2 separate regions of the Homo sapiens genome follow, and region 2 is linked to region 1. The links come from fine-mapping of genetic effects on gene expression. A gene starts in region 1. The other region holds a variant in brackets. All regions are shown on one strand. Distances are from middle to middle. Region 1 holds the start of HID1 (HID1 domain containing). Region 2 overlaps CDR2L (cerebellar degeneration related protein 2 like).

Region 1 (5,366 bases):
CAGGGGGAAGGTCCCCTAGTCCTCAAGCCTGCTAAGCCTGCTCTAGAGGACTGTGTCACCATGCATTCCCATGCACATACATGTATACACATGTAAATATGCACCCGCCAGGTTCATCTGGCCTGCAGCAGAGAATTCCAAACAGGCAGGATCTGGGAGAGGGTTCCAGGTCTGGGACTGTCTCCCTCCAGAGCCCCACCTACTATGAGGAAGCACCAGGAAACACAGCCAAAGCGGCTGGCTCTTAGGACCAGGGTCAGGCCTGACCCAGGACTGGACCATGGGGCAGGAAGAAAACAGGATGCAGGGCAGGAAGGCGAGGAAGGTGGAGCAGCAGGGATACAGGCCCAGGCCACAGGAAAAGGGGCTAGTTCTGCCTGTCTACTGCCCAAGCCACACCCTGTAAGAGCCTGGAACCACATATCATCCTATGGACAACTGGCCTGAATCTCCTTGGGGACTCCAAGTGGTAAGGTCAGTGATGATCATCTGGGTTCTGATCCTCACACCCAAGCTACCCAAGTCAGGTCACTTACACAGAGTCCAAGGCTTCAGCCTCTGAAGGCCTCTCCCCCCGGGCAGCCCAGGCCCCCGTCCGCCTACAGGACCCAGTGCTCTCCAGAAGGCTGGTCTGATCTCCAGCCTATCCAGGTTCTATTCCAAGCCTACTCAGCTGGGAAACAGAACAGCACCATCTCAAGTGGCCCATCATAGGGCTGTAGCCAGGGAAAGACAGAGGGACACAGTATTTTGGGGAAAAGGCCTGAGCAGGTAGGAATCTAGGCCACTCCAGAGCCTTTGGTACTCTGCTGAGCTGGCCCCACTGGCCTGGCAAAGGACCCCAGCTGCCGAGCCCACAGTGCAATCCTCCAACAAGGAGTTTCTTCCCCAGGCAGGTAAACATGGGAGCCTCCCTTCCTCCCTGCCTCCCCACTCCTCTCCCTGCAGCCCTACACTGAGGGGCTAGCCCACTTGCCACCTTCCCTGCCACCCACAGAACGAAAACCCCATCCTAAAAAAGCCAAGCTCCAGAACGACCCAGGAGCCGTAGGGAATGGAGAGAAGTGCGGTCTGGTTTCTATCAAGAGCCTTTCAGCCGGGGTTGGACTCTCCAGAGGCCCTGGGCATTTGCTGCACATTTGACCCTTCCAGGGTGGGGAAAGGGGTGAGGGAGCAAGGTCTGGCCCCTGGAGCTGTGACCAGCTGGCTGTGGGAGCTGGCTTCCTCCATCCCACTCTAACCTCCAGCAGCAAGAGAGAGCCCTGGAGAGCAGGAGGTGGGGGGGCCAGGAAAGAGGAAGATCCCAGATGGCAGCAGGTCCTGTGTCCCCTGAAAATGGGGGACATGGGGAGTCAGGGCCGAGCATCTCTGTGGCCACGGTGGCCTGATTCAAAAAGCCAGGAGAGAAGGGGTGGGCAGAGAAGCAGTCTTGCTGGGGCCAGGTGGTATAAGGAGGTGGCTATTGGGCCACTTGTGGACTCACAGGAGAGTTATGAGCATGGACTAGGCTGGAGGGTCCTTAGGCCCCTCACCAGCTGACTGAGGGCCATCCTGCGGGTCCCCATCCCTGAGCCAGAGAACAGAGCACACAGGCTAACAGCCTTTCCCTTGCAGGGCCTCGGGGAAGGCCCCTGGAGAGGTCCCCAGCTGGGAGGCTGTGCTCAGTAGGCCTGGGGACAGGGCCCCCCACCAGGCTGCCTCGCTGCCCGCCACTCTTTGCGTGTTCCCAGGAAGACCTGGGCCTTCCCTGCCCACGGGCATCGACCAGGGCCCAGCGAGGCCGCTGCCGCGCACACCAGCTGTTTCTCCGACCCGGGCGGACGCCAGCCAGGCTTTGTTTGCATTGAGTCAACAGGGACTGTGCGTCCGGGACCCGCGGGCAATGAGGGGCAGGGAGGGGAGCGGACGGTGGATGGGTGGGTGGGGGCGGCGGGAGGCTGGAGATGCGAAGCTGGGGACGCCGCGGGGCGGGACAGGGGGCGGACAGCTGTGTCGCCGGCTCGGGGAGTAGGCACACGTCAGCCTAAGGTGGCAGCAGCGGCTTCGGGGAGAGGGGTGTTCCCAGGAGAGGAGGCTGAGGGTGGGGGACTAGGGCCAGGGGATGGAGCTTCCAGGTACAGGCCGCGGGGTCCCGTTCCGGCGCTGGCCTTGGCGTTACGCTCGGGGCCCGCCCGTCCCCCCATCTCCCGACGAGCCAAGTTCGCGTACCCCCGGCCCTGCCCAGCCCCCAGCCCGGCAGGTGGATGGGGACGCCGGGGCCCCCGTGGCGCACCTGCGTCTTGGTGGTGAGCTGGATCACCGCCTTCCGGAAGTTCAGCTTGGAGTCGGTCGACCCCATGTCTCTGGAGCCCGCTCCGGCCCGGCCCCCGCCCAGACTCCAACCCGGCTCCGGCTTCAGCTCCGGCTCCAGCTCCGCGGCCCCCGCGGCTCTCGCAGGAGACAAGCGGCGCGCCCCGCCCCCGGCCCTCGTCGGCCCCGCCCCGACAGGCCCCGCCCCCGCGTGGCTCCGCCTCCTGCACCTGCAGCGCCCGCCGCCGAAGACCCGCGGAGTCGGCGGTTCCAACCCAGCGCCGCCGCACGCCGGGTGCCTTCTCAGGTCCCACCCGGAGCCTCGACGCTCTTCCTTCTGCGTCGGAGCATTGTACCCGCCTCCGCTGCTACCACGCAGTCCCCAGGGCCCAAAACCCTCCTCGCAGCTCGTCCCCCGCCCCGGTCCTCACCCTTCATCTCCGCTCCGGCTCCTGGCCCACGTCTCAGCTGGCCCTCTCCATCCCACTTTCCTCCTTCTCAGTCTGTCTTTCCCATTCATGTTTTCTGAGCATCCACTCTCTTGGTTCTCCCTTTTTCTGACCTGTCAAACCCACGTGTTCAGACAGTCCCGCAGGCCCTTGGTTATGAGGGAGGGAGGCGCTGACTCAGTTTCCATACTCCAGGAAAGCAGCTCCTCGCCTTGCTGAGCGCGAGAGTCCCTCGCGGTCCCGACCCCTCTCTAGCCACCAGATTCCCAGAGAATCCTTTGAGATTCATCCATTTCAACAAATGTGCTGAGGGTCTGGTATTTGCCAACTCTGTGTCATGGACGGACACAGCGGACATAAGTAGTACAGCCTGCTCTTTATGGCGAGCAGCTAGGGAGAGGGATAAGGAAAGAAGCGGCCAGGGTACAGCCAAATAAGCCTGTAATAGAGGCAGATTAATCATCAAAACAAGGCCGGGTGCGGTGGCTAACGCCTGTAATCCCAACACTTTGGGAGGCCGAGGCAGGCGGATCACGAGGTCAGGAGTTCGAGACCAGCCTGGCCAACATGGTGAAACCCCGTCTCTACTAAAAATACAAAAATTAGCTGGGCTTAGTGGCGCACGCCTGTAATCCCAGCTACTCTGGAGGCTGAAGTAGCAGAATTGCTTAAACCTGGGAGGCAAAGGTTGCAGTGAGCCGAGATCACGCCACTGCACTCCAGCCTGGGCGACAGAGCAAGACTCCATCTCGGGGGGGGGGGGGGAATCAAAACAAGACGACAATGACGATATCTCTAATAGCTACCTCTGAGGTATTATTTTATCCCCATTTTACACTTGGGGAAAATGAGGCTTAAAGCAATTACTTGCCCAAAGCCACACAGGTAGTAAGGAGCTCATCCAAATGAGGCTGCGCTTTTTCCACAACATCATTTTGCAAGCTATGTCTGGAAGCTTCTGGAAATCTTGGATGCTTTTTTATTTTTTATTTTTTGAGATGGAGTTTCGCTCTGTCGCCCACCCAGGCTGGAGTGCAGTGGCACAATCTCAGCTCACTGCAAACTCCACCTCCTGGGTTCAAGCAATTCTCTTGCCTCAGCCGCCCGAGTAGCTGGGTCTACAGGGGCCCGCCACCACCCCCAGCTAATTTTTTTTTGTTTTTAGTAGAGATAGAGTTTCACCATGTTGTCCAGGCTGGTCTTGAACTCCTGACCTCAAATGATCCGCCTGCCTCAGCCTCCCAAAGTGCTGGGATTACAGGTGTGAGCCACCATGCCCAGCCCTATTATTTATTTATTTATTCATTCATTCATTCATGCATGCATGCATGCATTTTGCAGACGAGGTTTCACTCTGTTGCCCATGCTGGAGTGCAGTGGTGCAATCATAGCTCATTGCAGCCTCGAATGCTGGGACTCAAGCAATCCTCCTGCCTCAGCCTGCTGAGTAGTTAGGACTACAGGTGCACACCACCATGCCCAGCTAATTTTTTTTTTCATTTTTTGTATAGACAGGATCTTGCTACATTGCCCAAGCTAATCCCCAACTCCTGGCCTCAAGGGATCCTCCCACCTCAGCCTCCCGAAGTGCTGGGATTACAGATGTAAGCCACCATGCCTGGCCCCTAGATGCTTCAAAAGGATGTGACATTCACTTAAAGAGGAATTCTACAGGTGAAAAATGAGGGGCACGCCATCTGGGAGCAAAAGTGTGGCAGGGTGGAGCGGGTGTGGAGGGAAAGAGGAGTGCGAAGGGTGTCGCCATTTCACGGAACAAACAAACTCCACAGGGCAATGATAGGGTAGCTCTAGCCTTTCTCCGGAGGTGGGTTTTCCCCGCCCTGGGCAAAATCCTTGGCAGGTTTCATGGCTTTTCTAATCATTCCAAGATAATGAATGAATAGTTCCTTTATTTGGCATTAAAAAAAATCCAGTCTATTCTACAAATCACTCAACCGCATTCCAGGCCAGAGTGACATTAAAAACTCTCAATCATAATCATTAGGGAAATGCAAATTGAAACCACAGTAAGATAACACTACATGGCTAGCACAATGACTTTCAAAAGCTGGCAACATGCTAACAGTTTATTTCTTTATTTATTTTTAGTTTTTTGAGACAGGGTCTCCCTCTGTCATTCAGACTGTGCAGTGGCATGATCACAGCTCATTGCACCCTCTACCTCCAAGGCTCAAGCAATCCTCCCACCTCAGCCTCCCAAGTAGCTGGCATTACAGGTGCACACCATGACGCCCGGCTAATTTTGTATTTTTTATACGGATGGGGTTTTGCCATGTGGCCCAGGCGGTCTCAAACTCCTGAGCTCAAGCGACCCTCCTGCCTGGGCCTCCCAAAGCATCGGGATTACAAGCAGGAGCCACCGTGCTCAGCCTTCAAAAAGAAGAAAAAATAATAAAGGCAAGTGAAGGTATGAAGAAGGAGGAGGAGAAGAAGGAGAAGAAAAGAATTGAGAACTCTTGCTAACCAGCCACTCCGGGTGAAATTTTGACCCCTTTGGTCTTGCCCATCACTCAGAGCCATTTCTGTGGCTTGCAACCAGGAACTCCCAAGTGACATGGAAATATTACTGGATTTAATTGAGTCCACCCTCACCTAGCCTCAGGGGCT
Region 2 (5,366 bases), 24 kb after region 1:
CCCAGCTATTATTTCTCAGGCCTCTGTCCAATGCATAGCAAGGGCTCAGCCGAAACAACCGTATCTAGGAAACTTTCTGTCCGGGAGTATAGAGCCTATCCGTCCTCCAGAGACCCTAGAACTATCACTATGTCTAAAAAGGGAAAGCAGTAGAGAACTGGATCCCTGAACCACATCATATTGGCCCCAGTAGAGTTGCCTTTATGCATCTTGATCTGATTTACATCGTCAGCCTAGATTGAGAGCTGTTTTAAGAAGCAGCCTCATAAAATGAAACAGACCAGTGCTTTCCTGGACAGTCTTTTGACAGAATGCCTCAAGAAGGCCTACCTTTTGTCCCAGGAATTGTATTTCTAGGAATTCTGTATCTAGGCCTACCTTTTGTTCCAGGTACCTAGGCTTACCCTTTGTTCAAGGAATTCTGTGTCCTAAGGAATTGGGCGGTGATTTGCACAAAACGTTTTGTACAACAAAGTTAATTAGTTTCATTCTTTTTTTTTCAGAGATAGGGTCTTGCTTTGTCTCACTGGAATGCAGTGTTGCAATCATAGATGACTCTAATCTGAAACTCCTGGACTCAAGCAGTCCTCCCACATCAACTTCTCTAGTAGCTGCGACCACAGACATGCACCACCATGCCCGGCTAATTTTACAATTTTTTTGTAGAGATGGGGTCTCGGGTAGGGCGCGATCCCAACACCTTGGGAGGCTGAAGTGGGCGGATCACGAGGTCAAGAGATCGAGACCATCCTGGCCAACATGGTGAAACCCCGTCTCTACTAAAAATACAAAAATTAGCTGGGCGTGGTAGCACGCGCCTGTAGTCCCAGCTACTCGGGAGGGTGAGACAGGAGAATTGCTTGAACTTGGGAGGCAGAGGTTGCAGAGTGAGCCAAGATCTCATCACTGCACTCCAGCCTGGCGACAGAGTGAGACTCAGTCTCAAAAAAAAAAAAAAAAGAGATGGGGTCTCACTGTGTTTCCCAGGCTAGTCTCTAACTTTTGGCCTCAAGCTATCCTCTCACCTCAGCCTTCCAAAGCACTGGGATTACAAGCATGAGCCACTGTGCCCAGTCTACACTTTCTTTTTTTTTTTTTTCTTTTTGACAATGTCTCACTCTGTCACCCAAGCTGGAGTCCAGTGGCACAATCACAGCTCACCAAGTAGCTGGGACTACAGGTGTATGCCACCACACCCCACTAATGTTCTTATTTTTTGTAAAGACAGGGTCTCATTATATTGCCCAGGCTGGTCTTGAACTCCTTTACTAAAGCAATCCTCCCACCTCGGCCTCCCAAAGTGCTGGGATTACAGGCGTGAGCCACCATACCCGGCCTGGCCTCTAATTTTTAAATCACCAGTTTGTTGTTGTTGTTTGTTTGTTTGTTTTGTTTTTTTGAGACAGGGTCTCTCTCTGTCACCCAGGCTGGAGTGCAGTGGCACAATCTCGGCTCACTGCAACCTGTTTCCCAGGTTCAAGTGATCCTCCTGCCTCAACTTCCCAAGTAGCTGGGACCACAGGCACATGCCACCACGCCTGGCTAATTTTTGTTTTTAGTAGAGACAGGGTTTTACCATGTTGGCCAGGCTGGTCTCGAACTCCTGACTTCAAGTGATCCACCCTCCTCGGCCTCTCAAAGTGCTGGGATTATAGGCATGAGCCACTGCACCCGGCCTAAATCACCAGTTTTTAACCTTTCTGTACTGTTTGATTTTTTTACACCAATCATGCCTTATGAAAAACATTAAAGCTATTTTAAAAAGAAAACAGCCTTGTGAAACTCAGCCTCAGCCTGCTCTAACGACCTCTTTGAGGACCCGCTCTCTCCCACCCTTCTCCGTCTCTGGATTAAGCTGCCTAAATCTTTTTTTTTTTTGACAGATTTATTGAGATTTAATTAACACACAATACAATTCACTCATTTAAAGTGTGCAACTCAACAGTTTTTATTATATTCACAAAGTTATGCAACCATCACCACAATCAATTTTAGAATATTTTTATCACCCTGCCTCGTTTTAGAAACAAAAAACAGGCCAGGCACAGTGACTCACACCTGTAATTCCAGCACTTTGGGAGGCCGAGGTGGGTGGATTGTTTGAGGTCAGGAGTTTGAGACCAGCCTGACCAACATGGTGAAACCCCATCTCTATTAAAAATACAAAAATTAGCTGGATGTGGTTGTAGGCGACTGCAATTCCAGCTACTTGGGAGGCTGAGGCAGGAAAATAGCTTGAACCCGGGAGGCGGAGGTTGCAGTGAGCCGAGATTGCCCCACTGCTCTCCAGCCTGGGAGACAAAGCGAGACTCCGTCTCAAAAAAAAAAAAAAAAGAAACAAAAAATAATAAATATATTTAATATACATATGTGTGTTGTTGGGAGGATTGTATCCACTCCAAATGTCTAGCTATCATCACACAACTCAGACCCACCAAGAGAATTTTTAGGGATTTTAGTACCTGCCGTTTCCTTCTAACTCCTTCTCTCTACCCGCCCATCCCCCACAACATCCCCCTAAAAACAGACAGATTCCCTCCTAGCCTATCTGATGGGTCCTCATTTCCCTTGGACTGGGGTCAGGGAGGGAAGGTTCCAATCCTACAGGGTACAAGCACCAGGGCTGTTGGGGGAAGAGGATGTTTCTGCTCCTCAGGGAAAGAAGGTTTGAGAGCTGGGCACATGTCACTAGGGTCAAATGGTACCCAACCAGGAGCCCGATACCTGAATTCTCCCCCTAGCGTGGACATAAACCAGCTGGGTGACCATGGGCAAGTCACTCTGCTGTCCTGCTCATTATCCATAAAATCAAGAAGTTGGGCCAAGAAGTTCTGAATCATCTTCCAGTTTTAATATTCAGCAAGCCCTTCTGCTCTCTCTGCCTCTCAGCAAGCTCCTATTCACCCTTTTCTTTCTTTCTTTCTTTCTTTCTTTCTTTCTTTCTTTCTTTCTTTCTTTCTTTTTTTTTTTTGAGACTGAGTCTCGCTCTGTTACTCAGGCTGGAGTGCAGTGGCACGATCTCGGCTCACTGCAACCTCTGCCTCCCAGGTTCAAGCGATTCTTCTGCCTCAGCCTCCCAAGTAGCTGGGATTACAGGCTTGCGCCACCACACCCAGCTAATTTTTATATTTTTAGTGGAGATAGGATTTCACCATGTTGGCCTGGCTGGTCTCAAACTCCTGACCTCAAGTGATCTTCCCACTTTGGCCTCCCAAAGTGCTGGGATTACGGCGTGAGCCACCGCACCCAGCCTCCTATCCACCCTTCAAAGTCCAACT[C/T]GAAAGCTGTCCATTTGCCTGAGCCTCCCGGGGAGAGTGAAGCTCTCCCTTGCCCATCACCCCACGGCACCTTGCCCCTATGTCCGTCCATGCTCTTATCACTCACTTAATCTTCCAAAAAGACAAATTATGCACTGATTCTGTCCTAGATACTGTCCTGGGTCCTGGGGATATTCATGAGCAAAACATAAAAATCCCTGCCCTGCCAGGTGCGGTGGCTCACGCCTGTAATACCAGCATTTTGAGGCCAAGGTAGGAGGGTCGCTTGAGGCCAGGAGTTCAATACTAGCCTGGGCAATATAACAAGACCCTGTCTCTACAAAAAAAATTTAAGAATTTTAGCCCAGGTGTGGTGGCTTATGCCTGTAATCCCAGCATTTTGGGAGGCCTGAGATCAGGAGTTCAAGACCAGCCTGGCCGACATGGTGAGACCCCCTCTCTACTAAAAATACAAAAAATTAGCCGGGCGTGGTAGTGGGTGCCTGTAATCCCGGCATAAAAAAGATTTTAGAAGTTAAAAAAAAAAAAAAAAAAGTACCGGGCACGGTGGCTCACGCCTGTAATCCCAGCACTTTGGGAGGCCGAGGCGGGTGGATCACGAGGTCAGGAGATTGAGACCATCCTGGCTAACACGGTGAAACCCCGTCTCTACTAAAAATAAAAAAAAATTAGCCAGGCATGGTGGCGGGCGCCTGTAGTCTCAGCTACCTGGGAGGCTGAGGCAGGAGAATGGTTAGCGTGAACCTGGGAGGCGGAGGTTGCAGTGAGCCAAGATCGCGCCACTGCACTCCAGCCTGAGCAAAAAGAGCAAAACTCCGTCTCAAAAAAAAAACATTGTACTATTCCTGTAGTCCCAGCAACCGATATTATAGTCCCACGCCTATTCACAGGCATGATCATATACACTGTAGCCTTGAGTTCCTGGGCTCAAGGGATCCTATCCCAGGCAGCCGTATTGCACCACCTTTCTTTTTTTTTTAATAGAGATGAGGTCTCACTATGTTGCCCTGGGAGGCTGAGGGAGGAAGATCGTTGAGCCCAGGAGTTCAAGGCTGCAGCACATATGATCACACCTGTGAATACTCACTGCACCCCAGCCTGGGTCCCATCCCTTAAAAGAAAAAAAAAACTGCCCCATGAGCTCACAGTTAGTTGGGGGAGCTGAAAAAGATAAAGGAGTAACTTGCTTGGGAAATTAGATGGTGCTAAGTGCTAAGGAGAAAGATGAAGCGGGGGAGAGACTGCAGGGCAGGGAACAGTGTGACTTTGAATCAAGTGATTGGGGAAAGATCTAGAGAAGTTGACAGGCACAGACTTGAAGGAGAAGAGGGAACAAGTCCTGGAAGTATCAGGAAAGAATATTCCGTGCGTGAGGCTGGCTTCTGGGTTGTCCACACCACTCTCTGCTGTGTTGACTTCCTGTTGTCTTCATCAAAGCTTTTTTCCGTGGTATTCTAAAATTAGGCCAGCAGTGGGGCTGGGAGGGCATCTGTGTTAGTCCCTTCCTGGCTGTGATCCGCCACACTCACTGTCAGTATTAAGGCCCAGCAGCCTGTTGATAAGCTACGCTGTCTCACCATGCGCTGGTGTGGAAACAGGGCCCAGCCAGCATGCCTCAAGGTAGATGGAATCCCCACTGGTCAGAGAAGAAGCCATGCGGACACTCCAGCTTGGCCTGGGCACAGCACTGACTCCTCACCCGCTAGTCTGGCTGTTAAGAGGAGAAGGTGCACTGCCTTCCAGCCTAGGAGGAGGACAGCATTTTGTATTTGTTCCACTGATGCAGCTTAGAACCACACCCCTGAGAATCGTGGCAAAACTTTCACAACCTGGAAAATGTTGAAAGCAACCATTCCTATTTTTGTTTGTTTTTTATTACATCTTGCACACACACACACACACACACACACACAGACACACACAAAAAGAACATTCCAGGCAGAAATAACAGTGCAAAGGCTTAGCTCCTGGCTTACCTCTCCTCCCAGGCCTGGAGGCTCCCAGTGTCTTGGTTACATTGGGGTCACCTAGAGTAGATGCTCGGAACATGAATGGGCGTCCTCTGCCTTTGTTCTCATGCTCGTGTTT

What was found. PIP is the estimated chance that this variant, and not a neighbour inherited with it, causes the effect. A credible set is the group of variants that fine-mapping cannot tell apart.
Region 2: its variant is the best candidate, but not a certain one, in a credible set for the expression of HID1 in lung (TOPMed, PIP 0.65).

What each region holds. Positions count from the first base shown.
Region 1 is chr17:74,970,319-74,975,684 of GRCh38, forward strand. HID1 (HID1 domain containing) reads right to left here and starts at 2,441. Exons shown (of 19, transcript NM_030630.3): 1 at 2,273-2,441. The coding sequence starts at 2,338. It overlaps HID1-AS1 (HID1 antisense RNA 1), which reads left to right and starts at 371. Exons shown (of 3, transcript NR_110878.1): 1 at 371-474; 2 at 4,250-4,412; 3 at 4,848-5,366. RefSeq lists a silencer at 2,396-2,505.
Region 2 is chr17:74,994,126-74,999,491 of GRCh38, forward strand. The region is part of intron 1 of CDR2L (cerebellar degeneration related protein 2 like); the gene reads left to right. Among named protein-coding and RNA genes, the nearest start is that of CDR2L, 9.2 kb to the left of the region's middle. RefSeq lists an enhancer at 1-348. The variant C/T (reference allele first, on the strand shown) is at 3,279.